Regions from separate parts of the Homo sapiens genome. Here regions 1, 3 and 4 are each linked to region 2. Evidence: fine-mapped expression QTL. A gene starts in region 2. Each other region holds a variant in brackets. All regions are shown on one strand. Distances are between the middles of the regions. Region 1 has its middle 27 kb from the start of SENP5. Region 2 holds the start of PAK2 (p21 (RAC1) activated kinase 2). Region 3 overlaps PAK2 (p21 (RAC1) activated kinase 2). Region 4 overlaps PAK2 (p21 (RAC1) activated kinase 2).

What was found.
Region 1: its variant is fine-mapped to the expression of PAK2 in whole blood (INTERVAL, PIP 0.92).
Region 3: its variant is fine-mapped to the expression of PAK2 in whole blood (TOPMed, PIP above 0.99).
Region 4: its variant is fine-mapped to the expression of PAK2 in skeletal muscle (GTEx, PIP above 0.99).

What each region holds. Positions count from the first base shown.
Region 1 is chr3:196,837,076-196,845,055 of GRCh38, reverse strand. No RefSeq gene overlaps it. Among named protein-coding and RNA genes, the nearest start is that of SENP5, 27 kb to the left of the region's middle. RefSeq lists a silencer at 2,903-3,057. The variant G/C (reference allele first, on the strand shown) is at 3,726.
Region 2 is chr3:196,736,398-196,744,377 of GRCh38, reverse strand. It overlaps PAK2 (p21 (RAC1) activated kinase 2), which reads right to left and starts at 4,521. Exons shown (of 15, transcript NM_002577.4): 1 at 4,221-4,521. RefSeq lists a silencer at 3,941-4,730.
Region 3 is chr3:196,830,022-196,836,758 of GRCh38, reverse strand. It overlaps PAK2 (p21 (RAC1) activated kinase 2), which reads right to left. Exons shown (of 15, transcript NM_002577.4): 15 at 4,112-6,737. Among named protein-coding and RNA genes, the nearest start is that of SENP5, 35 kb to the left of the region's middle. The variant T/C (reference allele first, on the strand shown) is at 4,681.
Region 4 is chr3:196,821,719-196,829,065 of GRCh38, reverse strand. It overlaps PAK2 (p21 (RAC1) activated kinase 2), which reads right to left. Exons shown (of 15, transcript NM_002577.4): 14 at 1,733-1,870; 15 at 1-747. The coding sequence ends at 661. Among named protein-coding and RNA genes, the nearest start is that of SENP5, 43 kb to the left of the region's middle. The variant T/C (reference allele first, on the strand shown) is at 2,070.

The DNA of each region.
Region 1 (7,980 bases), 100 kb before region 2:
CTAGGAGTTTGAGATCAGCCTGAAACCGCTATTGCAAAATTGTAACTGAGTCAGTGAAAGAGATCCGACCTAACCGACTCCATCTTGCGTCTAACCTCCAAGCTGCCCTTGTTCATTCCTGGGCGTAGGCTGAACTAACTTGGGGGGAAACTTAATTTATAGTTTAAAACAAAGACGGTAACAGCCCTTTCCCAAAGCAGACCTCCTTCTTGCCGGGGGACTAGACTAACATTAGTCACAAGATTAGAAATGATGGTTTAGGAGCCATGCAGCTGGAGGCTACAAGATTCTGACCCTCCCTACACTGCTCCTAAGATCAGCGCTTGAGATACTTTGCAGACTCCACACTTGATGGATCAGCTGGCACCACCCAGATGGATAAACTGGCTCATCTGATCTTGTGGCCCCGACCCAGGAACTGACTCAGCGCAAGAAGACAGCTTCAATTTCCCATGATTTCCTCTCCGGCCCAACCAATCAACACTCTCTCACTGGCCTTCCCCCACCCACCAAATTATCCTTAAAAACACTGATCCCCCAATGCCTGGAGAGACTGATTTGAATAATAATAAAACCGCGATCTCCTGTACAGCCGGCTCTGCGTGAATTACTCTTTCTGTACTGCAGTTCCCCTGTCGTGAGGTATCAGTTCTGCCTAGGCAACGGGCAAGGGGAACCCATTGTGCAGTCACAAGCCTGGGCAACATAGTGAGACCCCATCCGTACAAAAAATAAAAAAAGTAGCCAGCTGTAGTGGCGAGCATCTCTGCTCCCAGTTACTCAGGAAGCTGAACTGGAAGGATTGCTTGAGCCCAGGAGGTCAAAGCTATAGTGAGCCATGATCACACCACTGCCCTCCAGCCTAGGCAGCAGAGCTAGACACTGTCTCGATAAATAAATAAATAAATGGAAAAAGAAATGGCTGTTTCCTGATGAACTGAGTTGCTTGTTAATTGGTAATGAGGTCATCAGTGGGCTCTCATCAGTGAAATGAAAGGTGTTCGGGATCCTTCCATTGGCTAAAGTTATTTGAGAGACTCCTGCTGCCTTTGCATAAACAAGGTGTAAGAATCTAGTGAGGTCAGCAACGCGACCCCTTAGGAATGGCCCTCAGGGCTCCATCGTTACATAATCCTGTGACCAGCCACTAGTTAAGAGGATGTCTGGTTACATGATGCCATCTTTAAGGGTAACAGAATCCTGGCCCCTGGCACGTTTCCCTCTCTGCCTCAAGTGAACTTTTCATGCAAAGTTGTGGACAGAGCATTTGGGACAGAGAGCATGGATTATAGTGAGCTACAGGATAGGCTGAACAAACACTTTTGCTGACAAATGTTTGCTTAAATGAGCTTTCAGGTGTGTGACAAGATTTGGTCTGCGACTTGCTTTCATTATAATCTGGCAGGGGGGTTGTCAGAAGTTAGTTAACCCTCACCACCTCAAACTCCATAGGTAGCTATAACTTTACAGAAACAACCTAAGCATGTCCGGGTGAGGTGGCTCACACCTGTAATCCAAGCACTTTAGAAGGTTGAAGCGGTGGATCACTTGAGGCTAGGGGTTCAAGACCAGCCTGGGTCACATGGTGAAACCCGTCTACAAAAAAACACAAAAATTAGCCGGGTGTGGTGGCTGTAGTCCCTACTTGAGAGGCTGAGGTGTTAGGATCACTTGAGCCTGGGAGGTGGAGTTTACAGTGAGCTGAGATCGCACCACTGCACTCCAGCCCGAGTGACAGTGTGAAACCCTGTCTCAAAAAAAAAAAAAAAAAGGAAAAAAACAACCAAACAAAAATGAGGCATGATCAAACCTGGCTTAGGTTCATTTGCAACAATCTGCAGACCACGTTTTTCTTTATCCCTTTGTCAGAGGTGTTTGAACCGGAGTGACTCCATCTTGAATAAGGACTGGTTAAAATAAGGCTGAGGCCTGGAGGTCAGCACAAGATACAGGTCATAAAGACCCTGCTGATAAAACAAGATGTGTTACCAAGCCAGCCAAAACCCACCAAAACCAAGACGGCAATGAGGTGACCTCTGGTGGTCCTCACTGTTCATTAGACGCTAATTATAATGCATTAGCTGCTGAAGGACACTCCCGCCAGCACCATGACAGTTTACAAATGACATGGCAACGTCAGGAAATTACACTGTATGGTCTAAAAAGGGGAGGAATCCTCAGTTCCGGGAATTGCTCACCCCCTTCCTGGAAAACTCATGAACAATCCACCCCTTGTTTAGCATAACTGTAAGTATATTCAGTCAAGCAGCCCAAGCTGCCGCGCTGCCTATGGAGCAGACGTGCTCTATTCCTTTCTTTTCCTTTTTTTTTGAGACGGAGTTTTGCTCTTGTGGCCCAGGCAGGAGGAGCTCAATGGCACAGTCTCGGCTCCCTGCAACCTCTGCTCCCGGGTTTAAGTGATTCTCCTACCTCAGCCTCCCGAGTAGCTGGGATTACAGGCGCATGCCAACACTCCCAGCTAATTTTTGTATTTTTAGTAAAGATGGGGTTTCACCATGTTGGCAGGATGGTCTCGATCTCTTGACCTGGTGATCCGCCTGCCTCGGCCTCCCAAAGTGCTGGGATTACAGGTGTGAGCCACCCCGCCCGGCCCTATTCCTTTACTTTCTTAATAAACTTGCTTTCAGTTTACTCCGTGGACTCCCCTGGAATTATTTCTTGCATGAGGTCCAAGAACCCTCTCCTGGGGGATTGGGTCCCTTTCCATGAACACCTTTCTACCTCTTCTCCTTCCAAAAGTCCAGAGTTTACTCAGCCACAAAAGCTCCTCAATATAAAGTCTACCAAAGGCCAGGTGCAGGGGCTCACACCTGTAATCCCAGCACTTTGGGAGGCTGTGGCGGACGGATCACAAGGTCAGGAGTCCAAGACCAGCCTGGCCAATATGCTGAAACGTCTCTACTGAAAATACAAAAATTAGCCAGGCATGGTGGTGGGCGCCTGTAGTCCAGCTACTGGGGAGGCTGAGGCAGGAGAATCGCTTGAACCTGGGAGGCGGAGCTTGCAGTGAGCCGATTACACCACTGCACTCCAGCCTGGGTGACAGAGTGAGATTGCGCCCCCCACCCCCCAAAAAAAGAAAAAAATAAAGTCCACCAAACTCTGCAATTCTGAAAGAGGCCAGTCTTCAAAATTGCCTTTTGTGCCTCATTTCCCTATCCACTAATTCAGACACACAACAGGCCCTCAGCATGTTTAGGAGTTATGACTGAAGAGCATCTGAATGGCGAGTATTAAAGTTTGCACTAAATTATCCTGAAAAGGAGGCAAAGGGGGTATACAACGTTCATTCATCTCTATTGGATGCCTTTTTTTCTTCCTCCTAGAAGCAGGATCCCTGAATTAGGATAGGCTGAAATTTATAGGCTTCCCAACTATTCTCCTTTTTGAATATTATTATTATTATTATTATTATTATTATTATTATTATTTTGAGATGGAGTTTCACTCTTTGTGCCCAGGCTGGAGTGCAATGGCATGATCTCAGCTCACTGCAACTTCCACCTCCTGGGTTCAAGCGATTCTCCTGCCTAAGCCTCCCAAGTAGCTGGGACTATAGGAGTGCGCCACCACACCCGGCTAATTTTGTATTTTTAGTAGAAACAGGGTTTCACCATGTTGCCCAGGCTGGTCTTGAACTCCTGACCTCAGGTGATCCACCCACCTCAGCCTCCCACAGTGCTGGGATTACAGGCATAAGCCCC[G/C]GTGCTGGCCTCTACAGGCTACTTTATGGCTTCTGTAAAGTGTCTCTTTATACTAAAATTTAGAGGACTATGTATTTCTGACTTTGAACCAATGTTTCATTTATCTGGCTTAAATTGAATTAAATTGTTTCTCTTTTGAAGTGCAATTTCAACTATCCATAAAATAGTTTCCAATCCAACATTTAAAATCTTTCAGTAAAATCCTCCCTTTTTGTTTATTTATTTATTTTTTGAGACAGAGTCTCACTCCATCACCCCAGGCTGGAGTGCAATGGTGCGATCTCGGCTCACTGCAACCTCTGCCTCCTGGGTTCAAGCAATTCTCCTGCCTCAGCCTCCTGAGTAGCTGGGATTACAGGCGCACGCCACCATGCCCAACTAATTTTTGTATTTTTGTAGAGATGGGGTTTCACCATGTTGGCCAGGCTGGTCTGGAACTCCTGACCTCAGGTGATCCAAAGTGCTGGGATTACAGGAGTGACCATTTCTAGGTACTTTGTATTTTTGATCTGTTATAAATGGTAGATTTTTAAGATTATGTGTTCTATTTGTTGCTAGTGCTTAGCAATATAATAGACTCTTGCACACTGATTTTGCATACAGCAAACTTGCTAAATTTCTTAATTTTAATAGTTTATCATATCAACCTTATCTGAAAATAATGAGATTTTATCTTGCTTTCCAATTCCTTTTTTTTTTTTTTTTTTCGAGACCAAGTCTCACTCTGTTGCCCAGTCTGGAGTGCAGTGGCGTGATCTCGGCTCACTAAAACCTCCACCTCCCAGGTTCAAGTGATTCTCCTGCCTCAGCCTCCAGGATTACAGGTGCCCACCACCACGCCCGGGTAATTTTGTATTTTTAGTAGAGACCAGGTTTCACCATGTTGGCCAGGCTGATCTCAAACTCCTGACCTCAGGTGATCCACCTGCCTCGGCCTCCCAAAGTGCTGGGATTATAGCCGTGAGTCATTGTGCCCAGCCATTGCTTTCAAATTCTTTTTTTTTTTTTTGAGATGGAGTTTCGCTCTTGTTGCCCAGGCTGGAGTGCAATGGTGTGATCTCGGCTCACCACAACCTCAGCCTCCCGGGTTCAAGTGATTCAGTTCACTCCTGGCTGGCACAGTGGCTTCACTGTAATCCCAGAACTTTCGGAGGCCGAGGCACGTGGATCACCTGAGGTCAGGAGTTCAAGACCAGCCTGGCCAACATGGTGAAACCCCGTCTCTACTAAGAATACAAAAATTAGCCAGGTGTGGTGGCTCACACCTGTAATCCCAGCTACTCGGGAGGCTGAGGGAGGAGAATTGCTTGAACCTGGGAGGCGGAGGTTGCAGTGAGCTGAGATCATGCCACTGCACTGCAGTCTGGGCAACAGAGCAAGACTCTATCTCGGAAAAAAAAAGTTCACTCCTAATTTGCTAAAATATATATTTTTAATCATGAATTGATACTGAATTTTACTAAATGCTTTTTTTTTTTTTGAGATGGAGTTTTGCTCTTTTTGCCGAAGCTGGAGTGCAATGGAGAGGTCTCAGCTCACTGCAACCTCTGCCTCCCAGGTTCAAGTGATTCTGCTGCTTCAGCCTCCCGAGTAGCTGGGATTACAGGTACATGCCACCATGCCCGGCTAATTTTTGTATTTTTAGTAGATACAGGGTTTCACCATGTTGGTCAGGCTGGTCTCGAACTCCTTACCTCAGGTGATCCACCCACCTCGGCCTCCTAAAGTGCTGGGATTACAGGCGTGAGCCACCGTGCCCAGCCAATGCTTTTTTTTTTTTTTTTTTAAGAGACAGTGTCACTCTGTCATGTGGGCTGGAGTGCAATGGTGCAATCACAGGTCACTGCAACCTTGAACTCCTGGGCTCAAGCCATTCTCCTAGCTCAGCCTCCAGAGTAGCCAGGACTATAGGTGTGCTACCATACCTGGCTAATGTTTTTTTATTAGGTTTTTTAGAGACAGGGTCTCACTATGTTGCCCATGCTGGTCTTGAGCCTGGCCTCAAGTGATTCTCCTGTGTTGTCCTCTCAGAGTGCTGGGATTACAGGTGTGAACCACTGGGCTCAGCCACTCTCTTTAATCTGTTGAGATGCCCAGATAATCTACTAATACTGTAAATTATCTTGATTTTTACATGCATAAGCCTACTTGTTTAGGATGCACTACCTCTTTCATACATTGCTAGATTCGGTTTGCTAGTAATATATTTAATAATTGCACATTTGTATTTATGAGATTATCCTATACTTTTTTTTTTTTTTTTTGAGACGGAGTTTTACTCTTGTTGCCCAGGCTGGAGTGCAACGGCACGATCTCGGCTCACTGCAACCTCTACCTCCTGGGTTAAAGTGATTCTCCTGTCTCAGCCTCCTGAGTAGCTGGGATTATAGGTGCATGCCACCATGCCCAGCTAAAGAGAGGGAGTTTCACCATGTTGGCCAGGCTGGTCTTAAACTCCTGACCTCAGGTGATCCACCTGCCTCAGCCTCCCAAAGTGCTGGGATTATAGTTGTGAGCCACTGCGCCTGGCCTATCCTATAATTTTCTTCTTCAATTATTTTGGTATCATGGCTACTCCATCCTTATAATAGAATTTGGGGAATGTTTTCTATATCCTCAAATACTTTGTGCAGGATTGGAATTTTTTCTTTGAATATTCTTAGAACTCATTGGTAAAACTGCCTGGGTGTTTGCTCTAAATTTCATCCAGGGAATGGGGAAGAACTACCCCTGTAAAATGGGTTAGAAGAGAGGGAAACAAACATAAATTGTCTTTGATTGCAGCCTTCAAGAACTGCTTGGTCTACAAAACTGACCAGTATCTAGGTATAATGCAAAGAGAAAGGTCTGAAAAGATGGAAACTAGTAAGAGATTTCCTTTGGAACGGGGACTTGGACTGGGATTGAAGAGGCTTTCTTTTGTCTGAATGGCTGAAATTTTATAAATCAGAATGTATTTCTCTATTATGTAGTTACTTTTTTTTTAAGAATAAGAATTATTACAGGGAGCCAGGCTCTCTGGAGCACTAGGAAGTTGGGGAGACACCCAGACTTGTTTTCTCTCCCTATGAGAATGTAGCTTTGCTGATACCAAGTTTGACTCAAGAACCAAAAGAACTCCATGTTTCTGAACAGTGAGACTGCTTGTAACATTGAATAATGTTACATTTGAGTTCTTCCAGAATGGGACATAAACCCGAGGATAGCAGGGCAATGGCAGGAATTGGGCTTTCACCTCTGGCAGGCTCCATCTTTGAGGAGCATGACAGTGGGAGCAGCACCCCCTAGAGGACACTTAGGGGCCAGGAACACCCATGAAGGACTATTTGCTCAGGGTCACCTAGGCTCCTGCTAAACTAAATCAATCAATTGCTCAATCAGGAATTTGTAGCAGATACTTGTGGTCTCCTCCCACGATGGATCACTAAACTTGCAACACTGCCAATTACATTTAAACTGCATTTATGACTTCATAAGCAATTACGTTTCTTCAAAACTAGCTCTCTAGCTGAGATGAGGCCTAGAGAGTTGAAAAGTTTCCAGTTCCTTAACCCAGAAGAGCTGAAATTCTACCTGGATAACACTGAAGAGATTAATGCTCTAGCCCCTTTTCTCATATCTAAAAGTGAGCACCCCATCAACCATGTAGTATCAAAGGAGTCAACAGACGGGGCAGTGCTCTGTAGAAATAGTAGGGGAAGAGCTACAAAAAAATTCCAATAGAGCAATTTTCACACTCAAACTATAGTAGTCACAATTATATACTATTTCCATCCCTCCTTCTTCACTAACGAGTCTCATTTTATCTGGAGAAACACTCTTCCCTAGACTCTCTTGCAGCTATGAGGTGCCAAATGACAGTTCTGGCCAGTGGGACAGAAGTTGAGGGTTTCTGGGAAAATTTGTGTTCTCTCGATATAAGCACTACTCCCTTGTGCTTTCCACGTTGCCTTTTGCCATCTCTCTTTCTCCTGCTTGACACCCGGACAAGAGGTTGGAGGTGCACCAGCCATCTAGTATCTATGTTGCAACAGGCATTAAGGATACAGGCCTACATGCTAAGAATGATAGAGTGACAACGTGGAGTCCCAAGTGCTGGTGGGGTTGCTGGACTCCCTGGTTGTCCCAGGACAACCCCAGACTGACAAACACTGAACTTCCTGTTACATTAAAGGTACTAACACTTTGGAACCTGTGGTTTACAAACTTATTTCTAATAGATACATAAAACAATTCTTGGCTGGGTGTGGTCGCT
Region 2 (7,980 bases):
AATATGTACTGCTTTTAGAATTTAAATTTAAAATAAGGAACAAAACCACTGTTCCAGTTTGTTACAATGGTTCTGCCAGCTGAGACTAAGGTAATTTTGTCTTAAAAGTTTTTACCACTTTCCAAATTTCTTATTTAATATTTTTTTCTACTTTTATTTTTGTCTGATTTAAGAGATGGGGTCCCCCTGTATTGTCCTGGCTGACCTCAAATTCCTGGACTCAAAGGATCCTCAGCCTCCCAAGTAGCTAGGACTACAGGCACCACCAGCCACTGCCCACTTTTCAACTTTTATACAGGAAATATGCATATTTTTAAATCTGAGAAATTTGTGTTCAAAAACCCTATGTTTTATTTCAGTGGTGAAACTATTACATATTTTTTCTCCTGAAAAATTACATTTTATTCATCCAAAAGTAATTTTTATTTTTAGTTACGGTCTCAGAAACTTCGTTCTTTTAGAAGGCAGTTTTTTGTTTGTTTGTTTGTTTGTTTTTGAGACGGAGTCTCACTCTGTCACCCAGGCTGAAGTGCAGTGGCGCAATCTCAGCTCACTGCAGCCTCTGCCTCCTGGGTTCAAGCAGTTCTCCTGCCTCAGCCTCCTGAGTAGCTGGGATTACAGGCGCCCGCCACCACGCCCAGCTAATATTTTTATTTTTAGTAGAGAATACTAAATTCTCTACTAAAGAATAGTAGAGAATATAGGTTTCACCATGTTGGCCAGGCTGGTCTTGAACTCCTGACCTCAAGTGATCGGCCCACCTCAGCCTCCTAATGTGTTGTGATTACAGGTGTGAGCCACCGCACCCGGCCTAGAAGGCAGTTTTAATTCTAAGTTTAGGAGTATCGACTCTACAGCATGTAAGAACAGACTATTAACTAACGTTTATTAAGACCTATAATTACAGAATCCTTTACCTGCATTCCCTCATTTGATCTAAATATCCCTGTGAAATTGGTATTATTATTATTATCCCCATCTTACAGGTGAGAAAAGCAAGTCTTGAAAAGAATGTATATCTTGCCCAGGGTAAAGTAGAACAGCAAGAATTCAAACGCAGGACTCTAGCTCCTAACCACATGGGATACATGGAGTAAGTACTAAAGAAACTCAGAGATAGTAGGCTGGAACACTGAAATCCTGAATGAATGTTCAGACTGACTACCCTTAACCAGGCAGGTGACCCTAGAAGGGAAGAAGTGATGAAACTCAACTCTGATCACAGAAGAAAACAACCAGTATTTTATTTTTTGGGGGCAATGAGGGATTTTTTTCCTTTCCTATTCTGCTCTGTTAAGGCACAAAAAGGATACTAGGAAGAGCTTGGACACACAATTTGCAATTAACACCCTCCCTCTGATTAGTCTGGAAACTCAACTCTTATACCAAACTGATGGAAACCTTTACGACTTAAAGTCTTGAAGTTGACCCAGTTTCTTTTTCTTTTTCTTTTTTAATGAGACGGAGTCTCGCTCTGTAGCCCAGGCGGGAGTGCAGTGGCGCGATCTCGACTCACTGCAAGCTCCGCCTCCCGGGTTCATCACGCCATTCTCCGGCCTCAGCCTCCCGAGTAGCTGGGACTACAGGCGCCTGCCACCAAGCCCGGCTAATTTTTTGTTGTATTTTTAGTAGAGACGGGGTTTCACTGTGTTAGCCAGGATGGTCTTGATCTCCTGACCTCGTGATCCGCCCGCCTCGGCCTCCCAAAGTGCTGGGATTACAGGCGTGAGCCACCGCGCCCGGCGAAGAAGACCCAGTTTCAAATTTTAACCAAAAGTGTAAAAGTCAGAAAGCCAAAAGAAATATACTCAAATATTATTATAATAATAATCGATTTTGATGGATAAAAGGAAGAATCTAACAATTCCTACTCATTTTATCCTTGGCTACTTGAAGTTCTTAAATATTAGAAAAGTATAATTGAAAGTTTATCTTTAGCTACCTGAACAAGTTCTAGTCTCTCTTAAAAAGTATAATTGAAATAGAAACTGTTGGTGGTGTGCCGTGGCTCACGCCTATCCCAGCATTTTGGGAGGCTGAGGCGGGCAGATGACCTGAGGTCGGGAGTTCGAGACCAGCCTAACCAACACGGTGAAACCCCATCTCTACTAAAAATACAAAATTAGCCGCGCGTGGTGGCGCGTGCCTGTAATCCCAGCTACTCAGCAGGCTGAGACAGGAGAATCGCTTGAACCCAGGAGGCGGAGGTTGCGGTGATCGCACCATTGCACTCCAGCCTGGGCAACTGAAACTCCGTCTCAAAAAAAAAAAAAAAAAAGAAATATTAATTGTTAACCGCATCTACTTGGGAACCTGTCTATCATAAAGATCAGAGAGCCCTATCGCCTGTATACTCGAACTATAAACTTAATTTTGAATTTGGGTTTGCAAGGTTAGTATTAAATAGCACGGAGTCCAGAATAGTATCTCTCTCTGAATGAGAGTAAACCATAAACCAAGGCCCTAAGGGAAGTGAAATACCCAGGAACTCTTCCTTCATAAAAATATCTGCTGATTAGAAGAAACTGGCAGAGAAGCCAACATCTACAGACCAAGTTTCAAACTCCAACAAAACTCCAACCTTTCTACACCTTAATCCCTCAGGCCAATAAAACATCCATTAAGTTAAGGACAACTGATACTACTATTTAAGAAATGATGACAGTATTGAAGCTGAGTATTGGAGCCACTTTTTTCAGAGCCTTGCTGGAGGGAAAGGTAACAATGGGCTACTTAGTGAAAACACAAAATACACTGAATTTAGGTCAACCTGTTACCAAATCGGAAAGTTGGTTTAAGACCTACATCTATTACAGGTTCACTTTCCGTAATAAGTGTCAATCAATGTGCTTGGCTAATAAGTAGCTCGAAAGATTTAATAGCCGAGGATGACACAGTGAAAAAGTTGCCTGAAATCCATACTCCTAACAGAACATGAAAAAGGCTCTTCATATATACACGAGCATGAGTGGGCTTTACAGAAGCCACAGACCTTCTGGCAAAGTTGACAAGTTTTAACCTGCTTTAAAAATTACTATTCACTGCCTTCATCCCAATGTAACTTTACTGAGTGTTATTCTATTGGACAACCCTACAAAAACAAAATCCCCAGAGCAAATTCTTGTACATTTCAATATCCTGCCTACTTATAAGAGCGGAAGAGTCGAACACAGCAGGGGAAAAAACGTGACGTGCACAACCTTGATCCAAAACACAGCTCTTCGTAGTTTAATTTTAGGCCTAACCATTTTGTCTTTTTATAAAGGTTAAAAAAGAAAACAAAGAAAGGACACATCGCCTGTAACGCAGAAGTGAGATAATGATATCAACCGGAGTTCGTTATTTATCAAGGGACAACAAATCACGCTCACACTGCCCAGGGAGAGTACTACTAAAATTAAGATACAAGGATGGGTACAACCTCACACCCACTGACGATGACACGCTTCTGTTCTTGGATGACTTATCTTTAAAGAATTAGTTAAAAGGTTGAGTGGCAACGTTTTGTGTTTGTGCGTGCGTGTGTTTCCAAGAGAGCCAAACATGGTGAAAAACCAATCTTAACTTCACCTAAGTTATCTAAAGAAGCAAATTTCACCCCTAGGCTGAAGCTCAAACAGGAGCGAGGAGAAGCTCCGAAAGATCAGTTCGTAAGCGGTGGCCCTCAAGCGCCCGGGACGCTCTACGTTTTTACCAATGTGGAATGTGGAAAAGAGGTTACAGGCTGGAGCTGAGAAAACAGTCAAGCTACTCGCGACAATATTCCTGAGCAGTGAAACGGGTGAACAGAGAGCGAGCAAGCAGGGGCTGAGAATCAGTGAGAGGAAAAATCAAGGAACAAAACCGGAGAGTCTGGTCCAGCATTAAGAAAACGGAGCAAAGGAAGAGGGTGAAACGCGAGGGGAGGGAAGACCGAGAGTCGGCAGAGACCGTGGTGCCGCGAGGTTCAGAGCAGGGCTGGGTCCAGGAAGAGTCAGACCTCCGCAGCCCAGCGAGCTTCCCATTTCTGGCTAAAGCCAGCGAAGAAAACGGCCCTGGGGAGCAGACAATGAGCCACCGCCCCAGGAGCTGCGGCTCCCAGCACGCAGGTGGCGGCTCCCCGGCCCCGCGCGGGGCAGGTCGGCCGTCCCGGGCCGCTCCCGCCCGCCAGGCCACGGAGAAGGAAGGAGGAGGAAGAGACCCGGCCTGCGTCCCGCGCCGGCCGGCCTGTGTGCACTTACCCCGGGCAAGGCAAGGTCCCCGCCCCAGCGAGGCGCCTCGGTCAGAGCTCCCGGCGGGCTGCGGAGCCGCCCCGGGCTAGCGCGCGGTGCGGGGAGGGGAGGGGAGGGAAGGGGAAGCGGGGCGGGAAGAGACGCCGCGCTGGAGCAGCCGCTGCTACCGCTAGGCCCAGCGGCGGCGGAGTCCTGCGCACGCCAGGGAGGGGAGGGGAGGGAGCCTTCGGCAATGGCGACGGCCCGGGCCGGAGGGGAAGCGGAACAACCGCCGCCGCTGCGCGTGGCCACAACCCTGGGGGAGGAAGACGGCGGGGAGCGGGGCGGGGCGGGGCCAGAACCCAGAACCCCTCCCGCCCCGAAGCCGGAGCTCCCCGGGGCGGAGACGAGCGCCACCTCCCATGGGCAGGCCCGCGCGGGGGCCGCTGGGAGTAGTAGTTCGGTGATAGACGTTGCTTTTATTCCTTGGGTAGTCTTTGTATTGAGAGGAGCAGCCAGTCCCTCATTTAATTCAGCATTGTCTCCAAGCAGGTCTCTGCCGACGGAAGACGCTGACAGACGATTGCTGTTATACACATCTGCTCCGCGACATTTGTTTCTGGGAATTCATCCGTTATCCATTTTGCTTTTTTGCTTACAAATTCTTAACTAAAATTTTGCTGCTAAATTAAGTATCACCTCCTTGCAAATTAAGACTTCCCTATTTTATCCACGGAGGAGTTCATCAATGTTTCACTTATTCTACAAATATTTGAGTGTCTGATATGGACTAGACACTGTTAAGCATCAGAAATACAAGGGTGGTTCAGGTGCGGTGGCTCACGCCTGTAATCCCAGCACTTTGGGAGGCTGAGGCAGGCGGATCACCTGAGGTCGGGAGTTCGAGACCAGCCTGGCCAACACGATGAAACCCCGTTTCTACTAAAAATACAAAAATTAGCTGGGCATGGTGGCACGCATCTGTAGTCCCAGCTACTCGGGAGACTAAGGCAGGAGAATCGCTTGAACCCAGGAGGAGGAGGCTGCAGTGAGCCAAGATCGGGCCACTGCACTTCAGCGTGACAGAGTCGTCATGCCTCAAAAACAAAACAAAAAACACAAAAGAAATGCAAGGGTGAACACGATTCACCAAGCCTTTGTGGAGCTTATATGAGGACGCAGTAATTAAAGTAGTCACACCTGGTATAAGAAAAAACTTGGCGAGGTTACTTTGGATAGGGTGGTCGGAGAAGGCCTCGTTAAGGAGGTGACACTTAAGGCAAGAACAGAAAGAGACAGCAATAAGAAGCACCCAGAGAAAAGCAATACAGGCAGGAGAAGAAAGAAAAGGGCTTGCTACGGTCAGTTAAGAAGGCCTGTGTAGCTGGGGCCTAGAACAAGAAGGCGGTACTATTAAGAAAACACTACAGCAGACAAGATTCAGGTCATGAAAGATCCTGAATGCCATGGTAAAAAGTCTATATTACAAAAAACCATTAAAAGGCTTTTTTAAGCAGGAAAGCGATGTTACCTGGCTTACACTTTAAGATCACTAGACTGCAATGTGGATAATGGAGTATAGAGATGCAAGAATAGAAGGGAAATAAAGTAGGAAGGCAGTGGAAAGAAAGAGGAATTGTGCTTCTCTATCAATGTAGAGCAAAAAACTCAATTGATGCAGTGGGTACAGGAGAGAAAGGAATCAAGGAGCAACATGGCACAGTAAGAGATAACCTGAAAAATGCTCTGATTATTAAACACACAGAAACACTGGATAAATAAGACATCCTTTCAAAGGCATAACTTGCAAGAATGAAAATAGAATGTTTCTGACAGTCTTCCAAATTTCACACTCAACCTGAAGAAGGGGCAGGACACCAGAGTGGTAAGCAGGGCAGTGAAGCCATGGTTGTGTTGAGGGCACCTACTTATCTCAGAAATCTCTAGAGTTTTAATAGGTGCACAGGAAACTAAAGACAAGGACTTGGGCCTATACAAGAAGTCAGGACTGTGATCCTGCATAGGACTGGAAATTCAAGGCGCTATACCCTCCAAGAACAGACTGGGGGGAAAAAAAACCCTATGCTAGCCCAGGGAGACACACAGGACATTTGTTTACTTTGGCCTGCAGTGGGCTTGCAGGGCAGAAGAAAATTTTCCCTTTAGAATTAATAACCCTTTAGAATTTTCCCTCACTAAGGTTTTAAAGTTCAAATTTGTCAAGAAAGTGGTCCCAGGCTGGAGTTCTGGGGGGCCTGGAAGAAACAAATACAAATCCTGACTGCACAGGTGTACCCTCAACCTCGGTCTCAAAGGATTTCACAGATAAACAGGATTTCCGAAGCCAAACATGAGCACCCGAAATACAATACACCTGAGGAAATAAGCAGCGATGAGTGAGTCAATAGAAACTACAAAGAACATAATGAAACCCACACAGACTTTAGCTGCTGGAATTGATGGCTACAGAATATACAGTACGCCTATTTAAATGATTAAAGAAAGTAAGACAGGAGCTAGAAAACACGAGCAAGAAACAAGATGCTTTTTTTTTTTAACGACCAAACAGCTTTGAAAATGAAATAAGTAGGCCAGGCGCGGTGGCTCACACCTGTAATCCCAGCAGTTTGGGAGGCCGAGGTGGGCAGATCACCCGAGGTCAGGAGTTCGAGACCAGCCTGGCCAACATGGTGAAACCCCAGTCTCTACTAAAAATGCAAAAATTAGCCAGGCGTGGTGGTGGGCACCTGTAGTCCCACCTACTCAGGAGGCTGAGGCAGGAGAATCACTTGAACCTGGGAGGTGGAGGTTGCAGTAAGCCAAGAACATGCCATTGCACTCCAGCCTGGGCAACAAGAGCAAAACTCCGTCTCAAAACAAAAACAACAACAACAAAAGAATTAAGTAGAATTTCTAGAAACAAAGAATAACTGAAACCAAAGCCAATGTTTGGTTAAATAGCAGATTACACACAATTGAAGAGAAAATTAGTAAACTGGAAGACAGACCAAAAGAAATTACTGAGAACAGCCTAGAGACAGGAAAAATGAAAGCAAGCTTAAGAGACATGGGGATAGATTGTTAAGGTCTCTACCATACTCCTAATGAGAATTCCAGGAGAGAAAAGAGAAAAACCAAGAGAGGCAGATAATGATGAGATAATGGCTGAAAAATTTCCAGAATTGATTAAAGACAGGAATCTTCAGATTCAGGAAGCAAACTGAATACCAAGCAGGATAAGTAAAGAAATTTCAAACACATGAAAATGAAACCGCAGAATACCAGAGATAAAGCAACCAGAGAGAAAAGACATTCTGTACAAACAACTATTACATTCATAGCAGATTTCACAACAGCAAAACGGGTGCCAGTCAATAATGGTATATTTTCAAAGTACCAAGAGAAAATAACCAAGCTTAGAAGTGTACAGCTACCGGCTGGGCACAGTGGCTCACACCTGTAATCCCAGCACTTTAGGAGGCTGAGGTGGGCAGATCACCTGAGATCAGGAGTTCAAGACCAGCCTGGCCAACAACGGCAAAACCCTGTCTCTGCTAAAAATATAAAAAATAGCAGGGTGTGGTGGTGTGCGCCTGTAGTCCCAGCTACTTGGTAGGCTGAGGCAGGAGAATCACTTGAACCCAGGAAGCAGAGGTTGCAGTGAGCAGGGATCACACCACTGCACTCCAGCCTGGACGACAGAGCAAGACTCTGTCTCAAAAAAAAAAAAAAAAAAAAAAGTGTACAACTACCTAAATTATCCATCAGATGAGTGAGGATGAAATAAATA
Region 3 (6,737 bases), 93 kb before region 2:
TGGTGGCTCACGCCTGTAATCCCAGCATTTTGGGAGGCTGAGGTGGTGGATCACTTGAGGTCAGGAGTTCAAGACCAGCCTGGCCAACAAGGTGAAACCTTGCTTCTACTTAAAATACAGAAATTAGCTGGGTGTGGTGGCTCACTCCTGTAGTCTCAGCTACCTGGGAGGCCGAGGTAGGAGAATTGTTTGAATCCGGGAGGCGGAGGTTGCAGTGAGCAGAGATCATGCCACTGCGTTCCAGCCTGGGTGACAGAGTGAGACTCTGTCTCAAAAAACAACAAACAAAAACTTCAAGAACCAATTCTCAAATTAAACTTTTTTATCTGCAATATCCCTTCAGGGAAGTGATTATCCAAACTACAATGCACAGTCTCATATTGCCAACTATGCAATACTGTAAAATACACAATTTCACACTGTGTGACCAAATAGGGATGTACTGGGGGCCTTCTTTGTGTAAAGCTGTGGAACAGCCAGACGTGGTGGCTCACGCCTGTAATCCCAGTACTTTGGGAGGCTGAGGCGGGTGGATCACTTGAGGTCAAGAGTTCAACACCAGCCTGGCCAACATGGTGAAACCCCGCCTCTACTTAAAATACAAAAAATTAGCTGGGCGGTAATGGCACGTGCCTGTAGTCCCAACTACTCAGAGGCTGAGGCAGGAGAATCGCTTGAATCCAGGAGGCAGAGATTGCAGAGAGCCGAGATTGTGCCACTGCACTCCAGCCTGGGCGACAGAGTGAGATCCTGTGTTAGAAAAAAAAAAAAAAAAGCTGTGTAATATTTGCAGCATAATTTCCATAATGCATCCATTTTTTAAATACGAGAGATGGGAGAAAAGTGCAAATAGCTCTGTGCAGCATCCTGTTACTTCTGCATCTGCTCCCGCAATATCAGAGGGGAAAAAAGCAATGAGAGGAGACTACATTTATCAAATGTTGACTTTGTGCTAGACATCATTCTAAATATTTTATTTGAAATGAATGAATTTAACCCTGAAAACCCCCTATGATGTAGGCCCTTGTATTATCACTCAAAACAAAGCACAGAAACAAGCCCACCAATTCACATTAACCGTTTTTGTGCACATTCTACTAGAGAGGGCTGTTACTAACTTCAAAAAGCGTAAGGAGTCCTCCCCCTAGCAGCAAATCTCAAAATTAAACACAGTTTCATTTAAAAGAAACTCACAAGTTCAAATGTGACTCTAAGATGAAACTAAGTAAAAATAAGCTTTCATACAGTTCTGTGTCTTGCTTAGTGACTGGATGGGGAACGTGCAGCAACAAACACTCGTGCACTCAGACCCATGATAACACCTTGACCAGCTGTGCTTTGTCATAAAAAAAAGACACTACGGAAATGGGACAGAGCAGGCGCATAATGGAACACCGTTTATCCGTGGTAAAATACGCAGGGCTGAAGGGAAGTGGAAAAGTATTTGCTGACAATGCAAGTTATATGAAAGTAGCTGATCCACATATCCAACAGTCCATGGCCAAAGGTCACTTTCAATGACACCACAGTCTTACGGCATGCTCCAATAGAGCATGAACAGATGAACAAATGAGATGGTCATTTACACTCCTACAGCACCAAGAGTGTGAACAAAACAGTGACAGTATCTATACTAAAACCTCAAATGATTAAGATTTTTAGTTTACTGAAAAACAGCTCAACAAAGATACTAGCAGCAAATCGTAAAGTGTACTAAAATGTAAGGAATATTGAATGTGACTAAGATGTCTTCTAGTTTCAATCCTGAAACTCCTTAAAGATTTTACTGACAATATATTAAAGCAATCACAGTTGGATTGTACTGTTAGATATTACTTAATTTTATGGCCGTGATCAACTAGGTTTTGAAAATGGTACACTTCTATTTTATTGAGACGGAGTCTCAAAAAGCTGTAGTGCAATGGTGTGATTTTGGCTCACTGCAATCTCTGCCTCCCGGGTTCAAGCGATTCTCCTGCCTCAGCCTCTTGAGTAGCTGGGATTACAGGCGCCCGCCACCATGCCCGGCTCATTTTCTATTTTAAGTAGAGACGGGGTTTCACCATGTTGGCCAGGCTGGTCTTAAAACTCCTGCCCTCAGGTGATAGATACACCCACCTCGGCCTCCCAAAGTGCTGGGATTACAGGTGTGAGCCACTGCGCCTGGCCCTATACTTCTATTTTAAATATAGAAGTCAAAGTGAAGTAGTTTATTAAGAATTGGAGGAAAATAGTTTTTTGGCAACGCGTTGATGATGCTGTGCTGTACATACCTACAGGTCTAAGAATGAAAAACAGAAATGTATGGCACTGTCACTCTATCTGGCACTGTCACTCTATCTGGCCTGTTACAGCACTACGAGGGTGAGACGTTTGCATCTGCTCCAGAGCAAACTGGGACGGATGAACGAGGGAATGCAACGGGCACCTTCTAACAACTATCCAGAGATGACGTATCCACGGGCGTCATTCCTTTCAAGATCAGGAGTCTCTTTTTTTTTTTTTTGAGACGGAGTCTCGCTCTGTCGCCCAGGCTGGAGGGCAATGGCGCGATCTCGGCTCACTGCAACCTCCGCCTCCTGGGTTCACGCCATTCTCCAGCCTCAGCCTCCCGAGTAGCTGGGACTACAGGCGCCTGCCACCACGCCCGGCTAATTTTTTGTATTTTCAGTAGAGACGGGGTTTCACCACGTTAGCCAGGATGGTCTCGATCTCCTGACCTCGTGATCCGCCCGCCTCGGCCTCCCAAAGCGCTGGGATTACAGGCGGGAGCCACCGCGCCCGGCGAAGATCAGCAGTCTCTTCACGTAACTCACAAGTTTATATAAATGCTGTCATTTTCTGAACAAATTGTTTCCCAGAAATGCAGCATTTTTAGTCTTTTTCCCTAACCCCAAACTAAGATGTATGGGTAAAACAGCTATAATCAGGATTATTGAGACTATAAAATTCTCTTTATAGAGATATAGGCAATTACCAACTCTTTTTTTTTTGAGACAGGGGCCTTGCTCTGTCACCCAGGCTGGAGTACAGCGGCACCATCTTGGCTCACTGCAACCTCTGCCTCCCAGGCTCGAGCCATCCTCCCGCCAAGCCCTAGAGATAGAGCTTCTGAAATTAACCACAGGCTTTTAAAAGTTTTCTTAGGCAATGCTTTGAGCATTTGCTATTAGTTCAAAGAAATATAAATGTTAGAACAAGACGAAACAGCCATATAGTGTAACAAATACATTTCAAAGTCATTGCCTCCCCTTCTCACCCAGAATATATATATATATATATATATTTTTTTTTTTTTTTTTTTTTTTTTTTTTTTTTTTCTTTTTGAGACAGGAGTCTTGCTCTGTCACCCAGGCTGGAGTGCAATGGCATGATCTTGTCTCACTGCAACCTTCACCTCCCGGGTTCAAACAATTCTTGTGCCTCAGCCTCCCAAGTAGCTGGGACTACAGACATGTGCCAGTACACCTGGCTGATTTTTTTTTGTATTTTAGTAGAGATGGGATTTCATCATGTTGCCCAGGCTGGTCTCCTGCCTGAGCTCAGGCAATCCGCCAGTCTCAGCCTCCCAGTGCTAGGATTACAGGTGTGAGCCACCACGCCTGGCCTTATTTTATGCTTTTTGATAGTAAACCATTATTGTGGCTGTTCCCTATGTTAGGGTACCTAAGATTCCAAATTAATTCACATAATGAAGTGATGCCTTACGACGTATTGCACTCTAAAAGGTTTCTTGGTTCACTTAACACAGAAATTCTGATCAGGTTTTTATTACTCCAGCAAGGTGTGTGTTCAAATCAGAACTGTTTCCCTGGGTCTGATAGAGAAACATTGATAAAGAAAATTATTCTGAACTTGATTTAGAAAGGGAAAACTTCCCCTAACTACTCAGGAGGCCGAAGCAGGAGAATCACTTGAACCTGGGAGGCAGAGGTTGCAGTGAGCTGAGATGGCGCCACTGCACTCCAGCCTGGAAGAAAGAGTGAGACTTGTCTCAAAAAAAAAAAAAAAAAAAAAAAAAAGGAAAACTTCATGTTTACTGCCCACACATTTCTAGAAACCTTCCTACTTTGGAGCTTTGTAATAAATTCAAAATGATGGCACAACACCATTAAAAGGTTTAAAACATTTATCACTAAAAATACTAAATGTTCTTTGAAAACCTATTAAGACATTTAAATATTCTTTTATGCTATCAAAAGACATTAAAATATTCTTTTACGCTGATCAAAAGAAAGAATAAAAGTTTAGGAAAGGGAAAAATGCACACTTTTTTTAAAAAGTTTATTTCTAGCCCTGAAAGAACAAAATTATTGAACAAAGTCAAAATACAGCAGTTAATGTCAATGTATAACAATTAAATAATTGAACGGGATTAAATTAAAAATAAAAGGCATAAAATTTGAAGACAACAGAAAAGACAAAAACTACTTTTGCTTAATTCCATTTCTATCAAAACAAGAAAAAAAAAGCCAATGCGTTCCAACCAAAGATGTTGAATTCCACACGTAACTGTTTCTCTTATTACTTCTGTTCTCTTAGAAACACTTCTAAGTTCTAAGAGAACAGAAGTGTGCTTGACAGAACTATCATCCATTTCTTTCTGCCTCTGTCTTGGCAGCTTTCTAGAGAAGTGAATGGGAAAGACTTCGGTTCTTTCAAGGCCAGGCCAGCGCTTGC[T/C]TCTTCTTTCGAACTCCAACCTCATCCACCACAGCATCTTTGCCAGAGTGTTCAATCAATGTGTTGACTGAGAAAAAAGAATGTGTGTATCTATTTTTTCTTATATACACACACTATCAAAAAACTGATTTTACCAGTTTCAATACCTACTGTGGGAGCAGCGGAGACAGGAAGACAATCTGCTTTTTGTATTACTATGAAGTTCCACTATAAAAAACCCCAAATGAGTATTAATCTGGATTTTAGCTATAATCTATAATATTTTGACACTGACATTTCACTAGATGTGGATCTCAGTATATTTTAAAAGATTTAGACTCAAAAATGGATGCAAATTCTTTAAGCATCTATTTTGTTTTTTTCTAATTTTAGCTACTACCTGATCAGATCTAAAATTATTCTGGCTAGAATACAGTATATACAAACATGTATTTAAGTGAGCCCTAAAAGAAATACTCATAGGTGGTTTAGAATCGCTTGTTAGAGGCACAGGTTCGTTTACAGTTGCTGGTTACTAGACTGTACGCAGCTGGACACTTCTATGTTAAAGGGAAGAGAATGAATACTATGTGCCAGGCAGTCAACACATGAAGACAGAGTTGTATTAGCCTCAGTGTCTTATGCTTCACAATTACTCGTTTACTTTCAGGTAGGATAAAATGTTCCATGTTTCATAGTTTCCCAGTTTTAATTGTCCCTAAAAGCAGCAGAAGAAAAAAGAAAAAGAGAAGATAACTTTAAATCTAAAATAAAATAAATAAGTACTATAATAATACTGTCCTAATAACACAAGAGGACTATTAAGGTAACTTTCAGATTTAAATGGGAATTTTCATTCTAAAGTGATGACAAAAAGGGTAAATATAAAAGGCAATTATTTAAAAAACATGAGGCCAGGTGCAGTGGCTCACGCCTGTAACTGCAGCACTTTGGGAGGCCAAGGTGGGCAGACTGCCTGAGCTCAGGAGTTGGAGACCAGCCTGGGCAATGTGGTGAGACTCTGTCTCTACTAAAAATACAAAAAAATAGCTGGGTGTGGTGGCGGGTGCCTGTGGTCTCAGCTACTCAGGAGGCTGAGGCATGAGAATTGCTTGAACCCAGGAAGCGGAGGTTGCAGTGAGCTGAGATCATGTCACTGCACTCCAGCCTGAGTGACAGAGTGAGACTCTGTATCAAAAAAAATAAAAATAAAAAACATGAATCTTGATTCAGATATAATTTTTCTTTCAACAAGTTCTGAATGTTTTAAAATTAATAAATCACAATTCTGTATTACTTTTAAGATTGTTTAAAAATGACACATTTCAAAATTAACCAAAGTATATTTCTGTTAGAGGTTAGTTTATCCACGTAACTTAAGAATAAACCACAGCGTAGCTCCCTTAACCAAAGAGCCAGGTTTTAATGACAAGTCAGTTGCCAGCAATGGACGTGCAGGTAACTATCGAAGAAGTCGCAACTACAAATCCCAAACTGCTTCTATCAATGGAAAAGCCCTTTGTTGAGTCACAAGCCTGAAACGAGGCGTTGGCACATAGTCAGTGAGGATGGTCTTTGACTTAGGAGGGAAGTGCCTCTGAGTACATGAGGATCACAGTCTTCTCATCTCGTTGGTTTTCTATTTCATTGGTAGCATCTTCTTTATCATAATCCATCCAACTGTTTACAAAGAATGGTAAAATTTGGAACTCAGGTGGCACTGCAGCTTTCTGCCAGAAATAAACCAGTTTCTATAATTCAGTAATAGCTGTAGAAGGCCAATATATTCCAGAGAAAAATGAAATCAAGAATTATATTGAAAACAGAGACCATTAAGTGCTCTAAATATGTTTCATTAATTATTTTACTCATTTTTCTGAAAATCTTGCCTTATCAATAAAAAACAGTCACTTCTCTCCTTATAATTGCATCTTATCATAGATATAGTGGAAATAAAATAATGGAAATAAAACCTGCCAGTTTCTCCAATGTATACTACAACAGCAAAATTATTTTTTATTCATGATTTATACTACTGCAGGATGGCAAGCAGGGGGGAAGTTAATGGGGGAAGGGGA
Region 4 (7,347 bases), 85 kb before region 2:
TAAAACTGACTTTTTCACATTTGTTAAAAAAGGTAAAAATCACATACTTTTCTTCCCTTCCTTCAGGTCAAGTTCTGAACTAAAATATTACATGTAACAACAGCTGGTCCTAACTTTTATACAAAGTGAAACTATATAGAGCTCCTTTGCCAACATAAGGAGCTACATAATTTCTATTACACTTGCCTAGGCATGAGAAACGCAAAAGCAACTCAAAAGGAGCAAGTCCAGGAAAAGAAAAGCTATGAAGGAGAGAAAGACTAGCAGATGAAACACATACTCTGAAAAACTCCAATCTGCCATTCAAGTATTGGAAATACCCCAAAGGGGACAATGAATGGGATCTATTACAACAAAGTCAGCAAAGTAAAATGCAAATCTCACACATGATAAATGGCCCTGATAGGCTGTTTGCTGAAAGACCTAAGGCTAGTGATTCAGTCCACAATTCCTTCTGGACCCTAAAGAAGGGGTTCATATAAAAGTCATACTTGTCTTTTTGCAATTTTCTCTTGGTTGTCTTCAGAGAATAGTCATTTGCTTCTTTCATTCAGGTTATGCAGACCATTTCTTTAAACCCCAAAAAGAGTAATAATTTTCATATACTAAAAGGCTTCTTGTAGAAAATGGAAAAAAGAGTATGAGGCCACAGCAGTGATGTTAACGGTTACTCTTCATTGCTTCTTTAGCTGCCATGATCAGTGGTGTCAAGCTAGATAACGGTTTGGCCAGTTTCAGGAAAGGATGCTGCCAGAAAGAAGGGGAAAAATAAATGTATAAGTGCCATTCATCAGGTTAGAAACAAAATAATTTTGTTCAATTAAGCCCCAAAGACTACTTGTCGATCATAATTTAATAAACTAAACACATATTAATACCTTCATAAGACTAACATAATCAACGCATTACTTTCAGAGTTGAATGAAAGCAGAATCATTTTAGTTTGACAAATATACACACAACAGCAATAAACAGGTCTGAGGAGTGATACGATGCACAAACTGTAAACAGGTCTGAGGATTGATACGATGCACAAACTGTAAACAGGTCTGAGGATTGATACGATGCACAAACTGTAAACAGGTCTGAGGATTGATACGATGCACAAACTGTAAACAGGTCTGAGGATTGATACGATGCACAAACTGTAAACAGGTCTGAGGATTGATACGATGCACAAACTGTAAACAGGTCTGAGGATTGATACGATGCACAAACTGTAAACAGGTCTGAGGATTGATACGATGCACAAACTGCACATTACGGTTTTGTCAGAATTTTATTCACAGCAGATGAAACCCTCACTTTTTTTTTTAATACTTTAAGTTCTAGGGTACATGCGCACAACGTGCAGGTTTGTTACATATGTACACATGTGCCATGTTGCTGTGCTGCACCTGTTAACTCATCATTTACATTAGGTATATCTCCTAATGCTATCCCTCCCCACTCCCCCCACCCCACAACAGGCCCCGGTGTGTGATGTTCCCCTTCCTGTGTCCAGGTGTTCTCATTGTTCAATTCCCACCTATGAGTGGGAACATGCAGTGTTTGGTTTTCTGTCCTTGCGGTAGTTTGCTCAGCATGGTAGGATGAAACCCTAAATTGCAGCAGCTGCCATACCGCTGGTGATCAATGAGTAGTGAAATCTACTTATTAGCCCTAGGAAAGCTTTCTGTCGGTTACCAAAAAAGTCAACTATTCCCCCAAATGAAATCATTTTTAAATTTACCTGTAATAATTCTTTGGCTGAACCCCTTTTTTCCACATCCATTTCCAAACATCGATTTAAGAAATCCCGAAATATTGGGGAAAGTTTCTCTGGATTCTGAAGTTCTGGGGTTCCATTAGTTGCTATTAGGTACAAGGCCTAAAAATAGAAGAACATCTTTGATCCACTTAAGATAGCTCAACACGGTCACAGAGCACTCCATAAAGTCTAAGGGATTCTTTCTTCTTTAAAGAAAATCACCATAAATACTAAACTGGGGTTATCATTATCCCATTTAAATTTAGATTTGATACTTTCCTCTTATTTTTAGATGTTACATTTCCTTAAGTTACTTTTC[T/C]GAAATCAGATTCACCTTTGGTTTTTCTTCGGTTATAAATGCAATACATATTGCTTTTGTTTTGTTTTTTTTTGTTGAGACGGAATCTTGCTCTGTCACCCAGGCTGGAGTGCAGTGGTGCAATCTTGGCTCACTGCAACCTCTGCCTCCTGGGTTCAAGTGACTTTCCTGCCTCAGCCTCCCGAGTAGCTGGGATTACAGATGCATACCACCATGACCTGCTAATCTTTGTATTTTTAGTAGAGGTGGGGTTTCATCATATTGGTCAGGCTGGTCTTGAACTCCTGACCTCAAATGATCCACCTGCCTCGGCCTCCCAAAGTGCTGGATTGCAGGTGTGAGCCACTGTGCCCAGCCCATATTGCTTTAAAAAATAAAACAATGTTAATAATTAAAAATAACCACAACCTCACCATTGACCATCCTGTTTAGGTTTCTCAAATTTTTTTCAAGTCATACATATCATTAAAAAAAATGAGATTTGTTAAAACTTAAAAAACAAAAAACAAAACAAAAAAAAACCAAGGCCGGGCATGGTGGCTCACGCCTGTAATCCCAGTACTTTGGGAGGCTAAGGCGGGCCGGTCACGAGGTCAGGAGATTGAGAGCATCCTGACTAACATGGTGAAACCCTGTCTCTACTAAAAAATACAAAAAATTAGCCGGGCGTGGTGGTGGGCGCCTGTAGTCCCAGCTACTCGGGAGGCTGAGGCAGGACAATGACGTGAACCCGGGAGGCAGAGCTTGCAGTGAGCCGAGATTGCGCCACTGCACTCCAGCCTGGGCGACAGAGCGAGACTCCGTCCCAAAAATAAACAAACAAACAAACAAACAAAAACAAATTAGGCTGGGCATGGTGGCTGATGCCTGTAATCCTAGCACTCTGGGATGCTGAGACAAGTGGATTGCCTGGGCTCAGGAGCTCGAGACCAGGCTGGGCAACATGGCAAAACCCCATCGCTACTAAAAATACAAAAAAAAAACAATTAGCTGGGTGTGGTGGCACATGCCTGTAGTTCCAGCTACTCGGGAGGCTGAGGCAGGAGAACTGCTTGAATATGGGAGGTGGAGGTTGCAGTGAGCCAAGATTGCACCACTGTAACTCCAGCCTGGACAAGACAGCAAGACTCTGTCTCAAAAATAAAAACCAAAAAAACAAATTATCCCAGGTCATCATTACTAATAACTACCTAGATCTATAAAATTACTGTAATGGCTTAAGTAAATATTGCCTTATATGAATGTTTCCTAATTTAATCAACTCCCTTTAGAAAATCCTTACATAGTTCTAATTATTTCCTTTACATTTCTATAAATTGAATTTTATTTATTTATTTATTTATTATTTATTTTTGAGACGGAGTCTGGCTCTGTGGCCCAGGCTGGAATGCAATGGCACGATCTCAGCTCGATGCAACCTTCACCTCCTGAGTTCAAGCGATTCTCCTGCCTCAGCCTTCCGAGTAGCTGGGATTATAGGCGCCCGCCAAAATGCCCGGCTAATTTTTTGTATTTTCAGTAGAGACGGGGTTTCACTGTGTTGGCCAGGCTGGTCTTAAACTCCCAACTTTGTGATCTGCCCGCCTTGGCCTCCCAAAGTGCTGGGATTACAGGTGTGAGCCACTGCATCTGGCCTATTTATTTTTCTTTTCAGACACAGTCTCGCTCTGTTGCCCAGGCTGGAATGCAGTGGCATGATCTCAACACATGGCAACCTCTGCCTCCCGGGTTCCAGCAATTCTTGCAGCTCAGCCTCCCGAGTAGCTGGGAGTACAGGCATGCACCATTACGCCTGACTAATTTTTGTATTTTTAGTAGAGGTGGGGTTTCACCACATTGGCCAGGCTGGTCTCAAACTCCTAACCTCAAGCGATCTGCCCACCTTGGCCTCCCAAAGTGCTGGTATTACAGGCATGAGCCGCTGCGTCTGGTCCTAAATTATTATTTTTAACTGACTAATTTTTTAGAAGTTTTAGGTTTACAGAAAATTGAACAGATAGTACAGAGTTCCCACACGCAACCTCCCCAATGTGGAGTTTTATTATTGTCTACATTATTATACTATGGGACATTTGTTACAAATGAACCAATATTGATACACTTCTATTAAATTAAAGCCCTCAGTTTACATTAGGGTTCACTCTGTATTACATTACACAGTCCTATGGTCTTGTTTTTTTTTTTAATGCATTCTCGATATGTTGCCCAGGCTGGCCTTGAACTCCTGGGGTCAAGAGATCCTCCTGCTTCAGCCTTTCAAGCAGCAGGGACTACAGGTGTGCACCACCGTGCCTAGTTGTTCCATGGGCTTTGACAAATGAATGCTCTCCAGTGTCCGCCATTATAATATCATACAAAGTAATTTCACTGCCCAAAAAAATTCCCTGTGCTTCACCTACTCATCCTCTCTACCCCCGATCCCCTGCCAAACCCCATAACCACTAATCATTTTTACTCTCTACAGTTGAAATAATATGTAGCCTTTTTAGACTGGATTCTTTCACTAAGCAATATGCATTTAAAGTTCTTACAACTGAAATGCAGTCGTGAGATTGTTTTAATGAACTTCTGTCCGTTCCAGTTGCCTGGAAGTTTTTCTCATTATGGGCTGCATCTGCCTGCTCCTTTGCCTGTCTGGTAAACTTTGACTGATGTCTGGGTGATTGCTGGGTCCTGGCTATTTCTGTATTCCTACCAATATGCTTTTTCCCCCCATCAGGCAGATAAAATCTTGTTGTATTTGAATGACTGGATCTATGTAATCACCAAGATCCACTATGTACAGACGAGAGAGGGAGACCTTTATTTCTTAGTTTCTTCCTCCTGGGACAGTCTTAATGATTTTCTCTTGGCCCAGAGGCACTCTCCGTGGAACTACAGTGCTTTCCTGGTCTTAGAGCCATGTGCCCTGGCCTGGTCAATGAGAAGCTTCTTGAGGCCTTGTCTATCTTCAGCTTGGAATGAGTTCCGAAGAACCTGCTTGTTTCTGAACACGTCCCCCTTCACTTCATGTACAGGCTCTGATACACGTGAAGGTCAATCTCGGTAGATTCATAGTGTCTTCTGAGCAGCTGGGGTGGAATTCTCATCTTCCTCATCCAGGCTGCCTTTTTGGTAATGTGTGCATTAGCAGTTATGCCCATATGCCTGTGGGCCAAGGTGTTTTTTTCTTTTTTTTTTTTTTTGCGACAGAATCTCTCCCTGTCGCCCAGTTTCAAGCAATTCTCCCACCTCAGCCTCTCGAGTAGCTGGGAATACAGGTGCACGCCACCATGCCTGGCTCATTTTTGTATTTTTAGTAGAGACGAGGTTTCATCATGTTAGGCTGGTCATGAACTCCTGACCTCAAGTGATCTGCCCACCTCGGCCTCCCAAAGTGCTGAGATTACAAGCATGAGCCACCGTGCCCGGCCCAAGGTGTTTTTTTTGTTTGTTTGTTTGTTTGTTTGTTTGCGGGGATCCAGCCTGGGAATGGATAGTCACAGGCTTGCAGATGATCAGCCCATCTTTGATCAGCTTCTGGATCTGCTGATAGGAGCTTGGCGCTGGTGATTTTACCGATCTCACTGAGGTTCAAGTAGACCTTTTTGCCACAGTGAAGGCCACTGGAGGCGAGCCTCTTCTGAAGCCTGAGCGTACTCCTGGCTATAGACGCAGCCCTGTAAGACTCTTCAGCTTTGTACAGGAATGCAGTTGAGTTACTTGGGAACAGATCCCGTTAGTCTTTTCTCTCTCATGTAGACTCTTCTTTCAAAATACATCCAGACTCACACCACTTTTTCCCACCTCCACTGATACTGCCCTGGTCTAGGCCATCATCACTGCTTGCCTGAATTATGACATCAGCCTCTTGACTGGTCTTCTGCTCTGCCTTTGCCTTCCTCAGGGATCTCTCAACAACGCAGCCAGGGAAATCCTATTAAAACTGAAGGAGACCACTTTGCTTCTCTGCTCAGATCTCTCTAACAGTTTCCCCATTTGGCCTCCAGTAAAAGCCAGAATCCTTCCAGAGCTCTCATAAGGCACTACGGTCTGGCCTGGTTTCTTCGCCGATCGACCGCACCTCTCGCTGTTTGCTCAGCGTACGCCAGCTGTGCTGAGGTCCAGAATCATCTCTCAATACACAAGGAACGCTCCTGCTTTAGAGCTTTTGCACTTGCTGTGCCTTCTGCTTAGAATGCTTTTCCCTCAGGTAAGTATCACGCTCTTACTTCCTGTGTCCAAATGTCACCTCAGGGAAGCCCTCCCTATGCACGCTTTTGATTTAATTTTACATTTTATTTTTATTGTATTTTTTTTGAGACAGGTCCTAGCCGTCACCCAAGCTGGAGTGCAGTGATGTGATAACAGCTCACTGCAGCCTCATCTTCCTTGGGCCCAAGTGACCCACGCACTGGGGCAGGATGATGGTTCCAATTAGCTGTGACTACAGGCACACACTAACATGCTTGGCTAATTTTTAAATTTTTTTGTAGAGATGGGGACTCACTATGTTGCCTAGGCTGGCCTTGAACTCCTAGGCTCAAGCAATCCTCCCACCTTGGCCTCCCAAAATGCTGGGATGACAGGCGTGAGCCACTGTGCCCAGCTCTCTAAGCACCTTTTGAAAGTAAACACCCTAACCTCCTTCCTGCCAGTCTCAGTACTCAAGAGTCCATTATTCAATGTATGACACATTATTCTGATTTATTTTGTTTTTCTCTTTTCCCACTAGAAGACAAGTTCTGTAAGAGCAGGAATTTTTGTGGGTTCTTTTAGACAGCATTGTGAATAGTGCTCAGCGCATGGCAGGTACCCAAACCAATACTGGCTAAATGAATGAATAACATTAGAGGGCTTTAATGTCATTCTGAAAAGTGGTCTAAACTAATCACCTCTATAGAAGTACTTTAACGGCCCACATAAACTGGAATCTTTGGCAACTGGATGAAAAGCATTCAGGAAACAGACGGTCAGAATCTGCTGCCATCTGTTGTTCGGCTTCTTTCACTTAGCACAGTACTCTCAAGGTTCAATGCTGTAACACGGATTGGCACTTCCTTCCTTTCTATGACCAAATAATATTCCACTGTTCACCAGGTTTGAATTATTTCCACTTCTGTGGCTGCATGAAGGTTTCTGTATGGATGTATGATTTTAATTCTCTTGGCTCTGTACCCAGCAGAGGAACCGCTAGGTCATCTGGTAATTCCGTATTAACTTCACACAGAATTGTCAAGTTGTTTTCCAAAGCAGATGTACCATTTTATATTTTGCAATGAACGAGATTTCTAGTTTC